3 linked regions of the Homo sapiens genome follow. The protein of the gene in region 1 purifies or fractionates together with the protein of each later gene. This does not show direct contact. Each region holds a gene or a part of one and is shown in the gene's direction. Other genes may lie near its edges. The genes, in order: RAB6B, SLC12A6 and SBF1.

Region 1 (3,650 bases):
CCCAAAATAACAGTGACTTAAACAAAATAGAACAATCTGAGCAGTCCAGCGCTGCTGAAGTAGCTCCTCAGGGTCAGGGAGTCAGCCTTCGTTGATGTCATCGCTCCTCTGTCATCCTCATCTGGATGGGCCACTATGACTCATCCCCACCGGACAGTGGGAAAGGGAGCAGCTGTGGGTACTCCCTACCCACAGAGGACCTGACCCCAAAGATGCCTACATCACGTTCACATCCCATTAACCAGAATGTAGCCGCCCAGCTGCAAAGAAGGCTGGGAAATATGTTCTTTATTTGGGGCAGCCCTGAGTCCATCTGCACACCCAGAATTCTGTTACTATAGAAAGGGAAACTACATACTGGGGACAACCAGCAGTCCCTGCCACCAGTCCTAAGCTCATGCACCTGGTTTTAGTTCAAAGGTGACTCTACAAAAGGAGCATGTCACTCCTGGGGAGCCTGTTGAGCATTGAGGAGTTGAGAGACTTCTACCTGCTATGCACATTTCTCCATAAGGGAATCAGAAGACAAGGATTGTCAATCTAACATACACCTGTGAAGGAAAAAGTCTGCATCCACAAGCACTGGTCATTGCAGATTTGTGCCTCGGTGGCTACACTATGCGAAGCTGTGGTAGAAAGAGCCCAGGTGCTGCCAAGTTTGCAGCTCTGATCTTCCCAGCCCTGCTACTGATGAGTGAAGTCACACTAGGCATGTCCTTTAACCCTCTGGTCTGTTCTTTCATCTCCAAAGTAAGGGATTGATTGGATTGTATCTAAGGTGTTTTGTCTAGTGCCCACATTCTAGCATCGTATGCTCCAGAGCGTAGAATGACCCCCCATATCTTTGTGTTATGAGGCAAGCTTCCAGGAGGGTGCAAGCCAGTCTCAGTCCTTTGTGGAACGAGTTGGGAGTGTGACTGTGTAAACATGCACACTTGTGCACACACATTGGTGCATACCTTTGCATTCAGCCTGGGGGGACTGGAGATATGACCTTTTCTATTTTCTTGGGCTTCCTTTGGTTGTGTTTTTTGCAGTCAAAAATCATGGCATTCCACACAATTAAACTTATTTATTAAACTTTATTTCAAAGGACTTTTTCTAATTTTAGTACTGTTATATGTTCATTGTGGAAAGTAGAGAAAAGTGTAATGAAGGAGTGTAATGAAGGAAAGAAAATGCTCTGTCACTATTCAGACCGTGATGCTATTAACATGTTAGCAGATTCCCTTCACTTCAGTGTCTAAGAAAACATGAAAAATACTCATAGATCTATTTGAGTTAATCTAATTGGGATCACTCGCCACATGATGTTTTATAACCTGTTTTTTGTTTATTTGTTTTTTTAACTGGATAACCGTTTCCCCAAATCCTTAAATATTTTTTCAAGAATGTGATTGTTAACAGCTGCCAAGGGTTCTAATCACATGGATATACCACACTATGCTTATTTAGTGCCGTGGACATTCAGGCTGTGTCCAAGTCTTTGTTATTATTGATTACATAGCAGTGATATCTCCATTTTACATTGACAGCATCTCAGTCCTACTGACAGGTACCGGGTGCCTGTGAGGCCCAGAGAGGTTGGTTGCCTGCCCAAGGCCACACAGCAAGTGAGTGGTGGGTCCTGGCCATCTGGCCACAAGGCTGGCTGCCTCTCACAGGTGCCAGGGCAGAAGAGGCATAGGTGTGGCACAGGGGAGCTGGTGACAGCTTCCAATGTTTTGGCTTGGGGAGAAAAGAGCCAGTGGGGCCTCCCAGCGAGAGGCCACTCTGGGTGGTCTGCAGTGCCCGCACCTGAGAAAAGCCATGCTGCTGTTTGCACCCACACAGCAGCAAGCTGCCTGCTCCTGCCCCCTGCCTCCCACCCTCCCGAGGTCAGTGTTGAGCCCAGGCCCATGCTTTAGGGCAGAGGGAAGAGGCTTTGGAAGCTGCAGGTTAGGCCATGAAGGGAACAAGGCAGGGAGTCCAGGTGGGGAGGGCAGGATATGTGCGTTGAGTGGCCTGAGTGGCCTTGCTCCTGGGGAGGCCTCCTCACCACTGCGCTCTCACTGCTTCTGAAGCACTTGCCCTCTCCAGAGAAGATCTCACCCTATAAAGGCCACCCTCATCTTTCCTCAGCTTGATCCCTCAGTGAGAGAGCCGCTGAGTGGTAGCAGGGAGGGGCAGGGAGGACAGAGCATGGCCACATTAGACCTGACATGAGCGTCCCCTCTTGCTGGTTATGCCACCACCTGTGGTCGCTAGGCTTTTGCCCCTTTGCATGAGACCTTTTGATTTTGACCGTTCTGTGCTTTTCTCTAACAGGCAACCATTGGGATTGACTTCTTGTCAAAAACCATGTACTTGGAGGACCGCACGGTGAGCACCTAATATCAGGACTGGGAGGGGCAGGGAGGGTTCCTTTGGGCTTATCCCCTAGGACCCTTAGCTGGGCACCACTGAGAGCACCTGCCGACACTAGGGGCTGGAGCTGGTGATGCCAGCATTGCAGAGCCCGGCTCTCCCAGTCCCCCGGACCAGGAGGACCTCACTGCCCCACTGACCCCTCTGCCCATGGTCCTGCCCTCCCTGAGACAGGTGCGACTGCAGCTCTGGGACACAGCTGGTCAGGAGAGGTTCCGCAGCCTGATCCCCAGCTACATCCGGGACTCCACGGTGGCTGTGGTGGTGTACGACATCACAAGTGAGTGAGGCTCTGCTCCTAAGGGAGGGTGGCTCATAGGGGGTCCAGGGCCCAGGTGTGACCCTGGCCAGGCCTGTGTGCATGTGTGTGCACACGCATGTGTGTGCACACGCATGTGTGTGCGATTGCTCCCTGAATGCAGAAAGGCAGGGAGCAGTGGTGAGTTGCCTTTGAACACCAACATGGTTTCCACTGCTCCCCACCCTCCTGCAACCGACAGGGGTTTATAGGGCCAGGTTGGTCCTGCTCGGAGTGGAGGCCAGCTTGTGGTGTGAGCAGATGCTCACAAGGTTGGCCCTGCTCCAGCCTCTCTGCACCCTCCCTCTCCCTGGCTGTCAGAAAGCTCCCTAAGGAGCTACTTCTATATGTGTGTCACCATGGGAGAAGACGCTGGTCCCTAGGCCAACCCCGGCCCAGCAGCTGTGGGTGCAGGACTCCCTGGGAAGGTAGGCAAGGGGGTCTGGAAGCGCAGTAGGCTGGTAACCCTTCTCCAGTACTGTGGCTCTTCAGGCCAGGGCAGGTGTTCTTAACAGGACTGCACAGCCTCAAGGGCGCACAGGGCCAGAGGTGGGGGTGGGGGGCCGAGGCAGAGGCCAGACCTGCAAGGCTCTTGTAATGGAACACACCTGATAAGCCCTCAGGGCTGTGGTTACCCTGAAGTGGGCGAATGCCCTAGGTGCTGTCCACAGCCTTAAAAATCACACAAGGAAGCATGCATGTCCCCGCGCTGGTGCATGCCCCCGCCACCCAGCCTGCTGCCCTGGCTCTGCCCACCCCTTCTGTCCACCTCTCTTCTGACCACAGGCCCCCTCCACACCTGAGTGCAGGTGGGAGCTGGGCCCGCAAGGGCCTGGGTTCACATGGCCTGAGGCACATCAGAAGGGATACCAGGCTGTGTGAAACTGAGGCTTCTGAGGACAGCTACCTCCCCTCCCCTTGGGTGTGCAGGCTGCCGAGTGGTGGG
Region 2 (3,650 bases), on another chromosome or scaffold:
AGCCTGGCCAACATGGTGAAACCCCGTCTCTACTAAAAATATGAAAACTTAGCCAGGTGTTGCGGTGCATGCTTATAATCTCAGCTACTCAGGTGGCTGAGGCATGAGAACCTGGGAGGCGGAAGTTGCACTGCAGCCTGGATGACAGAGCGAGACTCTGTCTCAAATAAATAAATACCTCTACCCTGACAAACAAAACCTAACAAAAAACAAAATTATCATTTTTAGTCACACACCAAAATAAGTGAATTATATTGTTTTGCTAATCATAGGTGACTATTACTTATTATTATTATTGTTATTATTATTTTTTGAGACAGAGTCTCACTCTGTCGCCCAGGCTGGAGTGCAATGGTGCGGTCTCCACTCATTGCAACCTCCGCCTCCTGGGTTCAAGTGATTCTTCTGCCTCAGCCTCCCCAGTAGCTGGGACTACAGGCACGTGCCACTACACCCAGCTAATTTTTGTATTTTTAGTGGAGATAGGGTTTCACTATGTTGGCCAGGATGGACTATTACCTTTCTCTTAAATAAGTCTTCTATATTATATAATTATTGAATACTATCCATGTTTTACCTCAGCATTCTAATAGCTAAAATATGTTGATTTGGTACCTTCTTAGCTTGTCTGAAAGAAGCATCCTCTTGATAGTTTTGTTTTTTTTGTTTTTGTTTTTGTTTTTTTTTTGAGACAGGGTCTCATTCTGTCAACCAGGCTGGATACAGTGGTGTGATCACGGCTCACTGCAGCCTCAACTTTCTGAGCTCAAGCAGTCCTCCACCTCAGCCTCTTGAGTAGATGGGAACACAGGTGCACACCACTATGACCAGCTAATTTTTTTTTTGTAGAGACAAGGTTTTACCATGTTGCCCAGGCTGGTCTCGAACTCCTGCATTCAAGCAGTTAGCCCACCTCAGCCTCCCAAAGTGCTAGGATTACAGGCGTGAGCCACCGCGCCCAGCTGGTTATATACCTTAACTGTTTTTCCTCTCTTCTCTATACTCTGTAGCCAGATTAAACTTTATAATATACTGCTTTATACCACAAGAAGCAATCAGCCAAATCCAGAATATGGGAAGTTTTATTGGATAACTAGATTCTTCAACAAATAATTGGGATGGGGTGGAGGAGGAGTGATGGGAAGAGAGGGAAAGCTGTTACAGATAAAAAGAGCCGTATCAGCCAAATGCAGTGTGTGAACTTGGTTTGGATTCTGATGTGCATAAAACAATTGAAAAAAGATACTTTTGAGACGAGTGGGGGAAATTTGAACATGTACATGATATTAATATTAAGGAATTGTTAATTTTCTTATAGATGTTTATGACATTGTGATAATGTAAAGCTGTTATCTATAAAGATATATATTGAAGTATTTACAGGTTAAATGAAATGTACTCCAGCTCCTTCCTCCCCACTCCTCCCCAAAAAAGTTGGGGAGAGATAGACAAAACAAGATTAGCAAATGTTTATAATTTGTTGAAGTAGAGTAAAAGGTACATTTTACTATTTCTTAGCTTTTATCTTTGAAGATGTCTGGGAACTCCTGAGCTCAAGTGATCCTCTCACTTGGGTCTCTCAAAGTGCTAGGATTGCAGGCATGAGCCACCATGCCTGGCCAATTTTTAAAAAGGTTAAATTACAATTAAAGGATTTTCTTTTGAGTGTGTCCTAGAATGCTGTAGATATTTGATTAAATATCAGTGATCAATACAGTGATTACCTCAACTTCTTGTCTTTGATCTTCGGTGGTCTCTTCTGTGTCCTCACTAAGTCTTTCCATCATGAGCCCAAATTCTTTTGTTCTCAGTGGCATGTTTCTAGATTCCAGATTCTCATAAATTTTGATATTACCTTTACTGGAATGGAAGGAAATGAAAGAAGGTACTCCTGCAAACCTGGGAACCTTATGAAAGTTATGCTTTCCCATTTTAAAGCTGTTAGAAGAAGGGGAATGTTTCTAATGCTGATGTTTAAGGCAACTTATAATGCTGTAAGCTTTTGAATTATGGCTGCTGCTTCTTTTGCCCTTCGTGTCTAACATATACTTCTGGACTACTAAGAACTTTGTGCAAATTCTAAAAAGGCACTCCTTTGTGCCCTGAGCCATCATGACTTCACTGGAGAAGGGCAAGCTGGATTTCAACCCTCTTCCCCTTGCCCTTCTGGCTTAATGCCCTCGTGCACTGTCTACACAGCTGTAGCTGGTGAGCTTGTTGTTTCAGAATAATGAAGTTACATGAGTTTAAGTTTTTGGTGATGTGTGTTTCTGAGGAGTAGGTATGAAAGTTTGGAGAGCTATAGTGTAGGAATTATGTGAGCATTTGAATGTTAAAACAATGTATTCTTTTAATGAAGTTTTATAAGTTTTACAAGTATGTGGAAAAACAAGAAGCTATTCTCTGTTAAAACCCTGTAATTAGTGCTTCAGTGTATATATGTTTTTATTTTTTGAGACAGGGTCTAGCTCTGTTACCCAGGCTGGACTTGGGTAGGCAGTGGCTATTCAGAGGCACAACTGTAGTACACTGCAGTCTTGAACTCCTGGGCTCAAGCCATCTTCCCACCTCAGCCTCCTGAGTAGCTGGGACTACAGGCATGCACCACCATGCCCAGCTAACTTTTGTATTGGCTTTTGGTAGAGATGGGGTTTTGCCATGTTGCTCAGGTTGGTCTCGAACTCCTGAGCTCAAGCGATCTGCCCATCTCGGCCTCCCAAAGTGCTAGGATTACAGGTGTGACCCACCGCACCTGGCCCTGGTATACTTTTAAGAATCTCAACAATTACATTTGAAGGTACAAGCACAAAACTGCAGAACATACAACATATACACATGCATACAGCACCTTGCCTTAATGGTAGTTCAGTACCTGATGAGTAGGAAACACTATCACCATATTTGCTCAGCTCTAAGGTGTGTACATTACCATATTTTAACATTTCTGATATTCAGGTGCGTCTTACTTTTGAAGAATTTTTAAGCTACTGTTAAAGTGGAATTTATACTTAACAAGATTTCAGAATCAAGTCAGTATTGTAAATAAGTCAGTCTGAGGGGCTTTGCGAAACCTGAAGTTTTGAAGTTACCTTTGGATGTCTTAACTGAAAAAAATGTAACGGCTGAAGTTTTTTTCTTCTTAAAATTTCAGTTTTTGTAGTTGAAAACTGTAGAAATAGAAAACAAAAGCCACATTGTTAGGAAATGACAGGTCTTCTAATTTTAGTCTTTTTTTTTTTCTTTTTAAAATTTCCTGTTATCTTAGCTCAGAGCTGGGTTTCAGTCTCCAGTTTTCTAGCTAATTTAACCAATGGCAGCTTTTTGTTTGTAGTTTTATTACGGCATTGCTAATCCTCATTATATTTGTCGTGGCCTTGAGCAAAAAACTCAATTGATGACATTCACCTGTTTATAGTCATAACCATTTGGTAAATAACTTTAATTTTTGGCAAAGTAGCACCTGAATTTCTCTCATTTTACCAGACAGGTCTACATTTACTTTGGGGTAAAGCTATTTATTTTTCATATTGCTAGTTTAAAAAAAGAGAGAAGAGAGAACACTAATAAGTTAAAAACTCTTATGTACACATCCACGTTTTCACTTTGAGGAGCTATGAGAAATTGAATCTAACCAAAATTTACTTTTATTC
Region 3 (3,418 bases), on another chromosome or scaffold:
GCTTTCCCAAGACCCTGAGGCTCTGGTGTGGGGATGCTCCCTGGAGTCTGGAGGGTGTGAGGCGCCCTTCACTGTCTCCTTTCTGGGCGTCGTCTTCTTGGGCCTGCAGCCCCCCATCAAAGGCTTCTTTGTGGCCCCCTGGCCAGTGCTCTGGGCTTAGGTCAGTTCTGGGGACAGGGTGCCTGGTCTTACCTCCTGGGCTGGGACAGCAAGGGGGGGACGACTGCTGGGGCCTGGGCTTGGCTGGGCCATGACGGTCAGCCTGGCCCTGGTTCTGCTGGAAATGCAGGTCCTACGAGGGCACTCTGTACAAGAAGGGGGCCTTCATGAAGCCTTGGAAGGCCCGCTGGTTCGTGCTGGACAAGACCAAGCACCAGGTGAGTGATCAGGTGGTGGGGGGGACTCACGGGGGAGGGGGCTCCGCTGACTCTGTGGCCTCCTCCAGCTGCGCTACTACGACCACCGTGTGGACACAGAGTGCAAGGGTGTCATCGACTTGGCGGAGGTGGAGGCTGTGGCACCTGGCACGCCCACTATGGGTGCCCCTAAGACTGTGGACGAGAAGGCCTTCTTTGACGTGAGCCTTGGCCGGGGCTTGGGAGAGGGGAGGGGCTCTGCGGTGTGGGGGCTGCGGAGTCAGTAACCCGCCCTTCCCCAGGTGAAGACAACGCGTCGCGTTTACAACTTCTGTGCCCAGGACGTGCCCTCGGCCCAGCAGTGGGTGGACCGGATCCAGAGCTGCCTGTCGGACGCCTGAGCCTCCCAGCCCTGCCCGGCTGCTCTGCTTCCGGTCGTTACCGACCACTAGGGGTGGGCAGGGCCGCCCCGGCCATGTTTACAGCCCCGGCCCTCGACAGTATTGAGGCCCCGAGCCCCCAGCACTTGTGTGTACAGCCCCCGTCCCCGCCCCGCCCCGCCCGGCCGGCCCTAACTTATTTTGGCGTCACAGCTGAGCACCGTGCCGGGAGGTGGCCAAGGTACAGCCCGCAATGGGCCTGTAAATAGTCCGGCCCCGTCAGCGTGTGCTGGTCCAGCCAGCGGCTGCAGGCGAGTTTCTAGAACCAGAGTCTATATAAAGAGAGAACTAACGCCACGCTCCTGTGCCTGCCTTCCCCACTCCCCGGCTGCCTGCTCTCGGCCTACCCAGAGGGTCCCATCTGCCCCTATCCAGGCCCACCTGGCGGGAGGTTGGCATCTTTCTCGTGAGCCTCTCCTGGTGCCTGGGTCCACCCAGCTCGGCCTGCATGTCCCTGGGAGTGACTTTGCTCTGGGGGCGGATCGAGCAGGAGGCTTCACTGGGGACTTGCTTGATTCCCTCCACGCCTCAGGGCTGGTCTAGGGGCCGGCACGGCTGGAGAGGAAGCCCCCATCCCTACCCAGGGGATGCAGAAGCTGACCTCACAGAGGCTTGGGGGTGAAAGGGTGGGTGGTCATTTGACCCCAGAAGGCTGTTGCAGGTCCAGAGGACACTTGAGGTGGACGTCAGTTTCTGGCTAGACCCGAGCTGAAGGGATGGAGGCCGGAGGCGGGGGGGGGGGGGGGACAGTGGGCTCCCAGGGGAATGCAGGTTGACCACATCTGGCTCCTGCCAGGCAACGAGCAGCATCTGGCAGAGTAAGGGGCCAACGCCCATGGGGGATGGACCCTCTCAGTTCTTGGGAATTCTGCCCCAAAAGTCCTTTCCCTGGGGTCTCAGAGGGCCCCCGTCCTTCCCTTCTTGGTGTCACTGTGGCCCCTCACTGCTCTTTTCCTATTCAAACCTGAGTCCCACCAGGCCCAGGGCTTCACCTGCTGAGCTGTTGTGTCCTTGCCTGTGACGAGGCCTGGCCAGGGGTGCAGGAGCAGAAGGTGGGGAGGGTTATAGACGCTGCAAAGGCCAAGAGAACATCTGAGAGTGGCAGCTGGTGACCTGGCCAGAGGGGCTGGTGAGGGGCAGAGAACCTGGCTAGAGGCTGGGTCCCTCAGGTGGTCCTCTCAGGTGGGAGGCGAGCAGCAGGTGTGGGTGAGGGGAAGGTTCTGATGACAGCTGCAGAGGCAGGGCCCAGTGCTGGCAGGTGGGGGGCCAAGACCCTCCCCTGGTGGGACGTTGAAGCCAAGGATGGCCTTGGACCCTGTCAGGCCCAGCATGGTCCCGCCACCTCCCCCACCCCACAGGTGGTGTTGGGACACCTGGGCGAGATGTGAGGGTGGGCTCACTTGAGCCACTGAAACCAGCCAGGTCTTCCCTCAGGCCGGACAGATGGCGCCTGACCGAAGTTCCTGGCACCTGGAAAACCCACAGGTCAGAGTAAGGGGAGAAAGGACCCTGCCCTCCCTGTTCCACGTCTGTGGGGGGAGAGGACAAATGCCAGGCACAGGGTAGGCGGCGAGAACAAGGCACTCAATGTGTAGCTGGGGCAGAGACTCGGCCTCTGGGGAGCTGAGCGGGTTCCCTCCACCCCCAACCGTGGTGGAAAGACAAGCTCGCTGGGGCGGGGTGGGGGTCTGGTCTCCACCTGCCCCTCCCACTCAGCCACTGAGGACAAGGTGGGGCCCAGGCTTCTGGGAGGGGGAGCTGGCACAAAAGGAAGTCCTGGGGTTGATGTGTTTGAGCGTTAGGCGAAGTGGTTCCCCCCATCCCCCAAACGGAAAAATGTCAGTATTTGCTAAGCTGTAGAGACCTGATGCCGTGATGTGGCCTGTTCCGCCTCCACCCATTACACGGGGATAACGCTGGGGGGTGGCGGGCCCACAAAAGAGGTGCTGGAGGAGACTCTCCCACCCCTGGCCGGGCCGGGGCTTTGGGGCCGGAAGGTTCACAGTACGCGGTTTGTCCGAACGTCACGGCTTTTATTGGGAGTTGGGGGTTTGGGGTGCCCTGTCAGGTGATCAGAACATTAAAAATGGACTCAACGTAAAATAATCTTCTGGACCCTTCTAGGACGACATGGCCGTGACCGGTAGTGCTAGAAACCAGTCTTCGAGCCCCTAGTGCCACACCATGTCCCCCCACCTGCATACCTGTGGTCTCCCCCTGCCAGGCACCCTGTGCTGGGCACAGGGACATCCCTGCCAGGCCTAGAGGGCCTTGTGTTTTTAAGGCAGTCAAATCTTGCAGCCTGGTTCAGTGCCAGCTCCAAGGGCTATTGGGTAGCTGCAAGGGTCAATTATGCATTCCTGTGAGTCAGGTTTTTCCAACCCAGGCCCTTGACTCTGCCCTGAGCTTGCAGCTGGATACAAAGTGCAAAAAAGCTTGGCTCCTTCTGTATTCTTTAAAAACAAAACAACAACAAAAAAAAAACTGTAAAAACAGCCTCCATGTCCACGCCCTTCCTGGCCCATCAGGTCCTGGTGGCATCTCAGGGTCCTGCCCCCCCCACCCCCACCCCCACCCCGGCTCCTGCAGGCCGACCTTATTGCTGTGCTCTGGGCTTGGGGG

What was found.
Region 2: the proteins of RAB6B (region 1) and SLC12A6 purify together in Homo sapiens (affinity purification with mass spectrometry; 4 studies listed by BioGRID and IntAct, with this or other methods). This does not show direct contact.
Region 3: the proteins of RAB6B (region 1) and SBF1 purify together in Homo sapiens (co-immunoprecipitation; 3 studies listed by BioGRID and IntAct, with this or other methods). This does not show direct contact.

The regions. Positions count from the first base shown.
Region 1 is NC_000003.12:133,840,321-133,843,970, reverse strand, and holds part of RAB6B (ras-related protein Rab-6B), read left to right. Parts: intron 1-2,307; coding exon 2,308-2,361; intron 2,362-2,580; coding exon 2,581-2,686; intron 2,687-3,650. UniProt on the Homo sapiens protein: The small GTPases Rab are key regulators of intracellular membrane trafficking, from the formation of transport vesicles to their fusion with membranes. Rabs cycle between active GTP-bound and inactive GDP-bound states.
Region 2 is NC_000015.10:34,327,705-34,331,354, reverse strand, and holds part of SLC12A6 (solute carrier family 12 member 6), read left to right. Parts: intron 1-3,650.
Region 3 is NC_000022.11:50,444,481-50,447,898, reverse strand, and holds the end of SBF1 (myotubularin-related protein 5), read left to right. Parts: intron 1-289; coding exon 290-377; intron 378-445; coding exon 446-577; intron 578-658; coding exon 659-757; 3' UTR 758-2,899; downstream 2,900-3,418. UniProt on the Homo sapiens protein: Acts as an adapter for the phosphatase MTMR2 to regulate MTMR2 catalytic activity and subcellular location. Promotes the exchange of GDP to GTP, converting inactive GDP-bound Rab proteins into their active GTP-bound form.